Linked DNA regions of Homo sapiens: region 2 is linked to region 1. Evidence: fine-mapped expression QTL. A gene starts in region 1. The other region holds a variant in brackets. All regions are shown on one strand. Distances are between the middles of the regions. Region 1 holds the start of FUCA2 (alpha-L-fucosidase 2). Region 2 overlaps PEX3 (peroxisomal biogenesis factor 3).

Region 1 (4,399 bases):
TTGATTCCCCGAAAGTCAAATTGAGAGTGAGGAGCAGAGGATACAAAGGGAAATCACAGGTAATTAAAGAATCTTCCACAGGGTTAATGCATTTTCAGATCATCAGGAATCTGTTCTCTATTTTGTTTAGTATGAGAAGTATCTTTATTATTCTAGGTCAAAATAACCATGGGTTTATCTGTAGAAAATGAAGTTATTCATAGCAAAGAATAAAATGACTCAAAACTAGCTGTTTTATTTTGGCATAGTACTAGTCTCAGTCAAAAATGTCAAATCCTCTTTGGCACCAATATATCTTTACCTAATCTTCATGGTTGAACAAAATGATAATATAAGATACAATTTAGGGGGAAGAAAGTTGTTAATTATGTACCACACTAATCTAAAATATTTCCAAAACAAGCTCAAGATTCCTTACAGCCCAAAACATGCAAATAAAGATTTGTAACATCTTTTTGAAGTAGCTATGTTTTGGCATAAGAATAAAGAGTCTCTGTTTTAGAAGGTGAATTATTTAAAATATGAATAATTCTCCATAGCTTATCCAGTTTTATTTTTTACATCAATTGACCTACCAATAAGAAAGGTTACTGGTTGCAGGTAGTCAATTTCTTTGTCATGAAAGGGTTAAAATATGCTATTTTGGCACATTTTTAAAGGTAAAGAAACTCGAAAAATAGCAGGTGCATGAAGAGCACTTTGCCCTTTGTGCTGTTTCTTAGGAGAGAAGATGAAATTCCAGTATGAAAGGCACTCTGTACTAGAAGGAAAGGCAACATCCTAAGCTTCAAAGACAAGAAGTAGAATACTGTACAGAACTTGCTAAAATTTATTATTTAAGTCTCCCCACATAATTTAGTCACACAATGTCAATTTAATTCTTGGACCCAGCAGAGACCCTAACAGAATGGAGGTGTAATTTTTCTACCCCTAGAGTAGAGCATGGTACCATGTATACTATGTAATGTTAATATAATATATAGTTCATACTCTGTATTGTGTCTACTAAATATAGTATGTTAATTTGGATGTATACTATTTATGTAGTATATAGTTGATTCAAATAAATACTGTTTAATGATTCCGTTCTTTTACTTAAGAATATATTATGTGTCCCAAAGTCCTGGAATTACAGGTATGAGCCACCGCGGATCACCTGAGGTCAGGAGTTCAAGACCAGCCTGGCTAACATGGCAAAACCCCGTTTCTACTAAAAAATACAAAAAAATTGGCCAGGCATGGTGGCGTGCGCCTGTAGTCCCAGCTACTCAGGAGGCTAAGGCGCGAGAATCGTTTGAACCCGGGCGGCGAAGGTTGCAGTGAGCCGAGATGGTGCCACTGCACTCCAGCCTGGGTGACAGAATGAGACTATGTCTCAAAAAAAAAAAAAAAAGAATATATTATGTGTATGTTTCTATATATGCACACAAAATATTTCTGTTTTGAAGGACTTAATACTTGTAGCATTTAGTCAGAAAAGACATGTGCAACAGTTTAAGAAATTACATGCACATTTTCACATAGATCTCAAGGTAAAATCTAACGCACAGATTTTTGTGTAGCACCTTTCATACGGCAGTATGATAACTGGGTTGTGTTAAGAGTACCATTCTAGAACCTCTTTAAAAAGTTCCTAGAGCCACACATGGGTAACATGTTAACATTAAGTAGCCAATGGTGTTCAATGAACAGTCGTTTCACATACTCATGACTATGTTTTAACCATAACTTCATGGCAGAACGACTGTAAATTGGCAGGTAGCAGCAGAGCAACCATAGGCCATTGTGCCTGAGTCACCGCTCGTGTGATGCCCCTGCACAAACTGATGAATGTCTGTAGTAGCTCGATGTTGTAGTGTCATAACTACAGCTTAATATGCGCAACTATGAAGAAGCTGAGGAGTCAGGAGTATCTGAAAACTCTTACAGTCACACGGAAGAAAAATTCCCTGTTCATCCAGCAGAAGCACTTAGGCAGGAAACCACATATTCGACACCCGGAAGTGCGAAACGCGGGTAACGCAGTGGGAGGTGAAACCGACGAGGGTGCAGGCAGCACCAGGCGGCGAACCAGGCCCGCTGGGTGGTGGCTGGAGGCTGCGGGTGGGGACAAAAGCGCGGCAGACGAGACAAAAGGGAGCGCACTCACCAGAACCACTCGCTACCGAAGCTGGGCACGGAAAACACTCCCCAGTGGATGAAGATGCCGAACTTGGCCTGGTCAAACCACGCGGGCAGCTGGCGGGCGTCCAGGGACTCCCAGGTGGGGTCGAAGCGCGTGGCGCTGTGGGCAGGGCACGGCGGCGGCGGCAGCAGCAGCAACAGCAACAGCAGCAACGGGAACGCGAGCCTGGGGAGCTCCTGGGGCCGCATGTCCCGGCGCAGGCCGGCTGTCCTCTCTGCAGGCTCCCGCGGCCTCGGGAGCGCTGTTCTTCCGTCTCTGCCGCTGAGTATGCCGCGCCGCGGTCACCTGACCAAGTCGGACTTGGAAACCGGCCACCCTTCCCCCTCTGGGGCGGGAGTGGCCACTCTCCCGGGCGTTCCGAATGACCTCAGGAGGGCTGCATCGCTCAGCATAACTAAGGCCAGCATTACCCCAAAGCCAGCTGGGACGGCTTTGCTAAGGCTCTGTCCTCTTGAGGGGAAAATATGAGTCTGAGTCAGGGCCTTGTGGCCAGCGCCTCTGCCCTCAAGCAGACACGACCCTGACCAAGAAACTGCCCAAGAAGACAATGCCCCCAGCCCACCCTGGTGGCTGCTCCACACGTCCGAAGCGTGCACGAGAAGGTCAAGGCAGGAACTTCAGCCGGGTCTCGCCATGATGGAACATGGAAAGCAACCTAGATCCTTCTCGGCCTCTGTATCAGCTCCCAAGATCCTGCATGTTAGAACCGTGGTTGTCAACCTTGAATTTGTATCAGATGAAATTCCAAGAGCTTCAGATTCAGCAGTTAGGTTGGGGCCCAAGAATTTGCGTTTCTACCCAGTTCCTACTTCTAGGATGTTCTGATGTTGGGCCGGGCGCGGTGGCTCACTCCTGTAATCCCAACACTTTGGGAGGCCGAGGCGGGCGGATCACAAGGTCAGAAGATCGAGACCATCCTGACTAACACGGTGAAACCCCGTCCCTACTAAAAATACAAAAAATTAGCGGGACGTGGTGGCGGACGCCTGTAGTCCCAGTTACTCGGGAGGCTGAGGCAGGAGAATCGCTTGAACCCGGGAGGCAGTTACAGTGAGCAGAGACGGTGCCACTGCACTCCAGCCTGGGCTACAGAGTGAGACTCCATCTCAAAAAAAAAAAAAAAAAGAAAGAAAACAAAATTGTGATGTTTCTGATTGGTGGTCCAAACTTTCCTGAGAACCACTGCATTGAACAAGGAGATGATCTGAGACAGGTGAAACCAGTGGAATGAATGTTTAAGAAACCTGCAAGCTTGGGAAAAAAGGCCAGCAACTTGGAAAGATTAATCAAAAGGATATTTGGGAAGCTTATCACCTCCACCTCTTGTTTGGTTTGTTTGTTTGTTTGTTTGTTTGTTTGTTTGTTTGTTTTTGAGACAGAGTCTCGCTCTCTCGCCCAGGCTTGAGTGCAGTAACATGATCTAGGCTCACTGCAGCCTCTGCCTCCCGGGTTCAAGGATTCTCCTGCCTCAGCCTCCAGAGTAGCTGGGACTACAGGCACATGCCACTGTGCCAGACTAATTTTTGTATTTTTCTTTTCTTTTTTAGTAGAGACAGGGTTTCACCATGTTGGACAAGCTGGTCTCAAACTCTTGACCTCAGGTGATCTGCCCGCCTTGGCCTCCCAAAGTGCTAGAATTACAGGCATGAGCCACCAAGCCCAGCCTCTCCTCCACCTCGTAAGTGTTTTCAAAGTAAAGCCAGAATCCTCAACTGCTTCTGCCCCCATGAAATCATTACCCTTCAATGAGCCAATTCAAATGCTGCTTCTTTTGTGAAGCTTTCTGCCACCACCCTTCCCTCCCAGAATGTTGTACTTTCCCTGATCTGCTTCATAACACCTCCTTCCAAGCACACATAGGATTTCACGCATCCTCTAGTAGCTAGGTGGTACAGGTCTGATTTCCCATCAGACTGTGAGCTTTTTGAGGGCATTCATAATGACCTTCTTTTCTGTAGTGCCTACAATTACAGCAGAAAAGCAGCACTCAAAATGTTTGTTGAAGCTCTCCAGTGAACTGGGGTTCTAATTATTGAGTGAAGAACTTGACACTAAGTGGCTGTTGCCTGCATTATCCCAACCCATCTCTGCAGAGAGATGGGAGCAGCAGAGGGCGCTGTCACTGCAGGTGTAGGGGCATTTTTCCTCTCCATGACATGCCAGATGGCCCCCCGGGGCCACAGCTCCACCGTAAGAGTCCCCAATTTTGTTTTG
Region 2 (4,399 bases), 50 kb before region 1:
AGGAAACAAGGCTGCAGAAGTAGGCTTGATCCCATCGGGCCTGTGGGCCATAGGAAAGAGTCATTAAGTTTATTAAATTTACAGTAGGCAACTATAGACCTGTGAGTCGTCCACAATAGTATACACTCAGGCAATGTTAATTAATGGCAATAATTTAACCTCCAGAGCTAGAAACATAGTCCTGGGAGAATGCCATCACAAAATCAACCTGCCCATATTTGAAGAGAACAGTGTGTCCTAACTGGCATAACTGAAGAATTAGTTCTCAAATCCATGCAAAGCCTGTTTTTCTTTTCTATTGTTTAAAGCTTACTCATTTCTCTAACATTCTTTCAAGAACAATTAATTTAGAAACAATTTATAAAGGTACATTCTCCTTATTTAATTTTAAAATTAGAAATTTTTTAGAGTTAAAGGCCTTTATTATTAGTTTACTTACCTCATTTTACTTGAGGCTGAGATTAAGAAGGGTAAGAGGCACATCCAAAATTACAATTGGAGTATGATTTTTAATATTTGAAGTAGTAATACTCAGAAAAATACCTTCATTCTGCAAAGCGAATAGTAATCATAAATACTATACATAATGACAATTCTGAGAGTAAAATGAACATTATAAAAGCCACTTCATAAATGTTTTGTGAGGCCGTGATGAGATAATGCCTATACAGTGCTTGATGTATGATAAATACTTGGTAAATGATAACTTTTTAAATTTACATTTAGCATTCAATATATTGCCACTGCCTAGGACATTTTAATGAATTTTTAGGGAATGGTCCATTTCTGCTTATTATTTGAATTTTCAAAAAATAATAAAATGGGCCAGGCATGGTGGCTCACGCCTGTAATCCCAGCACTTTGGGAGGCCGAGGCTGGTGGATCACCTGAGGTTAGGAATTTGAGACCAGCCTGACCAACGTGGAGAAACCCCATCTCCACTAAAAATACAAAATTAGCCGGGCGTGGTGTTGCATGCCTGTAATCCCAACTACTTGGGAGGCTGAGGCAGGAGAATCACTTGAACCTGTTAGGTGGAGGTTGCGGTGAGCTGACATCACACCATTGCACTCCAGCCTGGGCAACAAGAGTGAAACTCTGTCTCAAAAAAAAAAAAAAAAAAAAGTAAAATGTAGCTGCTGGGGTCTTAAAATACATCGCAGTTTGACATGGACCCTTGTGTCAGTTTGGGTCCCCTGGGAAGCAGATGCTAGGATGGGATTAGATGTACAAGAGATCTACTAGTAGAAATGCCTGTAAAGGATAAAGGGGAAGGGAGGCAGAAGAAGGCAAGCGAAGCATTTAGGCCACAGTGCAGGTCTGACATTTGTGAAGGGAAAAAGACAAGGAAGGAAGAAAGATTAGGCAAGAAGAGTCTCAGACTACAGCACAGTTCTAAGAAAGCATTGGGAGACCATGAAGAGTCTGCAAGCCAAAGTTTCTGGTAGAGGAGACCTGCAGAAATGGGCCTGCTTTACTGTGCCCATACAAGCAGTGTCATTGGCTGGGAGCAGTGCAAACATGGTGATGGATCCAGAGCAGTGGCAGATGGGGTTGTCAATTATGTATGCTCCTCCAGCAAAAGATAGGGGTCACACGTTTCCATGATGCAACCCTAAGATGAACAAATAGCTGACTATAGGCAATTAAAAGTAAAATATTTAATCTCTAAGAGCCAAAATATAGGTTCAGTGAAACTTTCCAAATTAGCTTTCTGCACATTCTGCATTTTTTGTACAATTCATAACATGAGCAATGATAATGGTGTTACAAATAATATCAAATTTCTATTCCTTTGGATAAGATGTAATTGATATACTAGAAAAAAAAAAAAAGAGTGCTTTGGGGTAAATATAAGTAGTTTTCTTACCCAAGAAGTTTTCCCTTTTAGAATGTGGTGTTCATAGCCAGGTGTGGTGGCTCACACCTGTAATCCCAGCACTTTGGGAGGCAAAGGTGGGAGGATTGCTAGAGCCCAGGAGTTCAAGACAAGCTTGAGCAACATAGTGAGACCTCATCTGTACAAAAAATTTAAAACATTAGCTGGTCATGGAGGCCCACGCCTCTAGTCCTAACTACTCGGGAATCTGAGGCAGGAGGATCGCTTGAGCCCAGGAGGTCAAGGCTGCAGTGAGCCGTGATTGCACCACTGCACTCCAGCCTGGGTGACAGTGTGAGATTCTGTCTCAAAAAGAAAAGGAATGTGGTGGTCTTCATATTTTTTCATTTTGTTATC[G/A]TTACTTTTTTAGGGTTTAGAGACTCATTTTACATTTTTATATGTGTATTCCTCCATTTCTTTTTTTCTCTAATCCCATGACAGATTCTTATTCTCCAGCATTTCTTATTCCACATGTAGAGCCATAAATAAACTCCTAAAAATCACATGAAGTTTTTTTCCCATAGATTGCTAGTCTCATTTCATCTTCACATTATTCCTGGGAGTAAGAAACAATAACAAACAACAGCCACTGACAAAACTAAAACTAAAACTCAGCAACTTTTAGTTTCTAACCCAGTGCACTTTTATTTATGTTATAATAAATGTTTATTGCTTTGTAGTATTACAAACAGTAAACATGTACAATAAACAGTAACAAATAATACCCACTGACAAAACTAAAACTCAGCAACTCTTAGTTCCTAACCCAGTGCACTTTTGTCTAGGTTATAATAAATGTTTATTACTTTGTAGTATTTAATAAACTTTTTAAAAATTAGAATGAAAAATGAAGGAAAAAGTATAGCTGAATATAAAAATGCTTTTGATCATTGTCATTAAATCAGAAGTAAACACTTTTGTAAAAAATTTGGAGAGTATGGAAAAGAAAAAAAAGGAATTGTTCATAATCCATAGCTCAAAGACCACCACTGTTAAAATCTGAGAATAATTCTTTCTATTGTTTCTTCTGTGTGTACTTGTGTTGCTGTGATCATAATGTTTATATAATTTTGTTAAATTACATAAGCAGATAAATGATTTGTTAGGATATAATCGTTTTATAATAATAATAATAATTTGAATCGTCTAGCCCTGACTTTCCCTTCTGACTCTTGCTAGTTGCTAGCCCTATCATATAGCCTAAAACAATGCGCATTTCTTAGTGAGGGCAGTCATATCACTTGTGACCTTTTTTATTTTTTTTGTTTGTATTACAGTGCTGTCCATGCTTCCAACACTGAGAGAGGCCTTAATGCAGCAACTGAATTCCGAGAGCCTCACAGCTCTGCTAAAAAACAGGTAAATGCAAGTTACAGCATTTTCTGTTTAAGCACTACACTTAAAGTTTATAGAATGAACTGATAGACTTTTCAAAAATCTTTGTTATTTTTCTATCTAATGAAAGTTTATATAGGCTCAGTAAGAAAAATACTAACTATATCATTTAACCTACATTTAATTTTGTCTATGCTCTACTTTTTTGCATAAAGCATTCAAGGCAATGATATTTGTATGTATTGTTTTTCATATAAATAGACCTTATAGCACTTTGAAATTGTTCACAAATTTAATTATGCAGTGCTTGTGAAATGTGTTCCTGAACCAGATGCTGTGAAGCTAACAAAGTTACGTTAAATATTGTGCTTCTTTCTGAAAGAGCTTACGGTGTAATACAGCATGTGAACATACGTTTTAAATAAATAAGATATACAGGACTTATATCTTAAATTACTAACAAAATGAAATACAAACATAACATGAGCATGCAATACTAATAATTTACATTGCCATGGCAGTTTGCTGTTTCCAAAAGCACTTTCACATATGTAACCTTGTATATTGCATGTAGCATGTGTTGGGGTATTGTAATTTGGTATGATACTGTATTAGTTTGAGAAGACTTCCAGCAGGAAATGGCTTCTTATTTTGATGACAATGATGGGAGGGTGGGCAGGGAAATGGTTTCACTAAATAAATGTTAATCATTGTGGCCTTCCTAAAATAATCACTTGCCTTTAATCACCCTTCAAATAGCCAGGGGAAAAGTAGTTCTATTTCTAAACTGTCTCACTGTGCTAGCCCTGGTGCTAGGTACCTTCCATATATGCTCCCACTTAATTTACACAATATCCCTGTGAGGCGGTTACTATTATTCATTTTGCAGTAGGAATTGAGTGCTCAGACAGGCTACATAACAAGTGGGGAATTTTTTTAAAAACACTTACTATATTCAGAGAATACTTCCCAAAATAACAGTGGATTTGTGTACTTGAGATTTCTTTTATCTGATTAAAACAGAATGCTAGTGATGGGGGTTTTCCATTTTAAATTTCTTCATTCTTAGAGGTAGACAGACCTTCCTTCCTTCTTACAGATATAAGGTTTAGCTTATAAATTAGTTCATACAGTTTTATGAAGAAGAAACATATAAGCAGATTGCTTTTGATCAAATAAATAATT

What was found. PIP is the estimated chance that this variant, and not a neighbour inherited with it, causes the effect.
Region 2: its variant is the best candidate, but not a certain one, in a credible set for the expression of FUCA2 in whole blood (INTERVAL, PIP 0.69).

Annotation. Positions count from the first base shown.
Region 1 is chr6:143,509,262-143,513,660 of GRCh38, forward strand. It overlaps FUCA2 (alpha-L-fucosidase 2), which reads right to left and starts at 2,459. Exons shown (of 7, transcript NM_032020.5): 1 at 2,150-2,459. The coding sequence starts at 2,373. LOC105378035 (a long non-coding RNA gene) reads left to right here and starts at 2,524. Exons shown (of 4, transcript XR_007059796.1): 1 at 2,524-3,515; 2 at 3,733-4,399. RefSeq lists a silencer at 1,692-1,895 and enhancers at 2,096-2,758, 2,318-2,447, 2,558-2,737, 2,759-3,419.
Region 2 is chr6:143,459,760-143,464,158 of GRCh38, forward strand. It overlaps PEX3 (peroxisomal biogenesis factor 3), which reads left to right. Exons shown (of 12, transcript NM_003630.3): 3 at 3,157-3,238. Among named protein-coding and RNA genes, the nearest start is that of PEX3, 11 kb to the left of the region's middle. The variant G/A (reference allele first, on the strand shown) is at 2,237.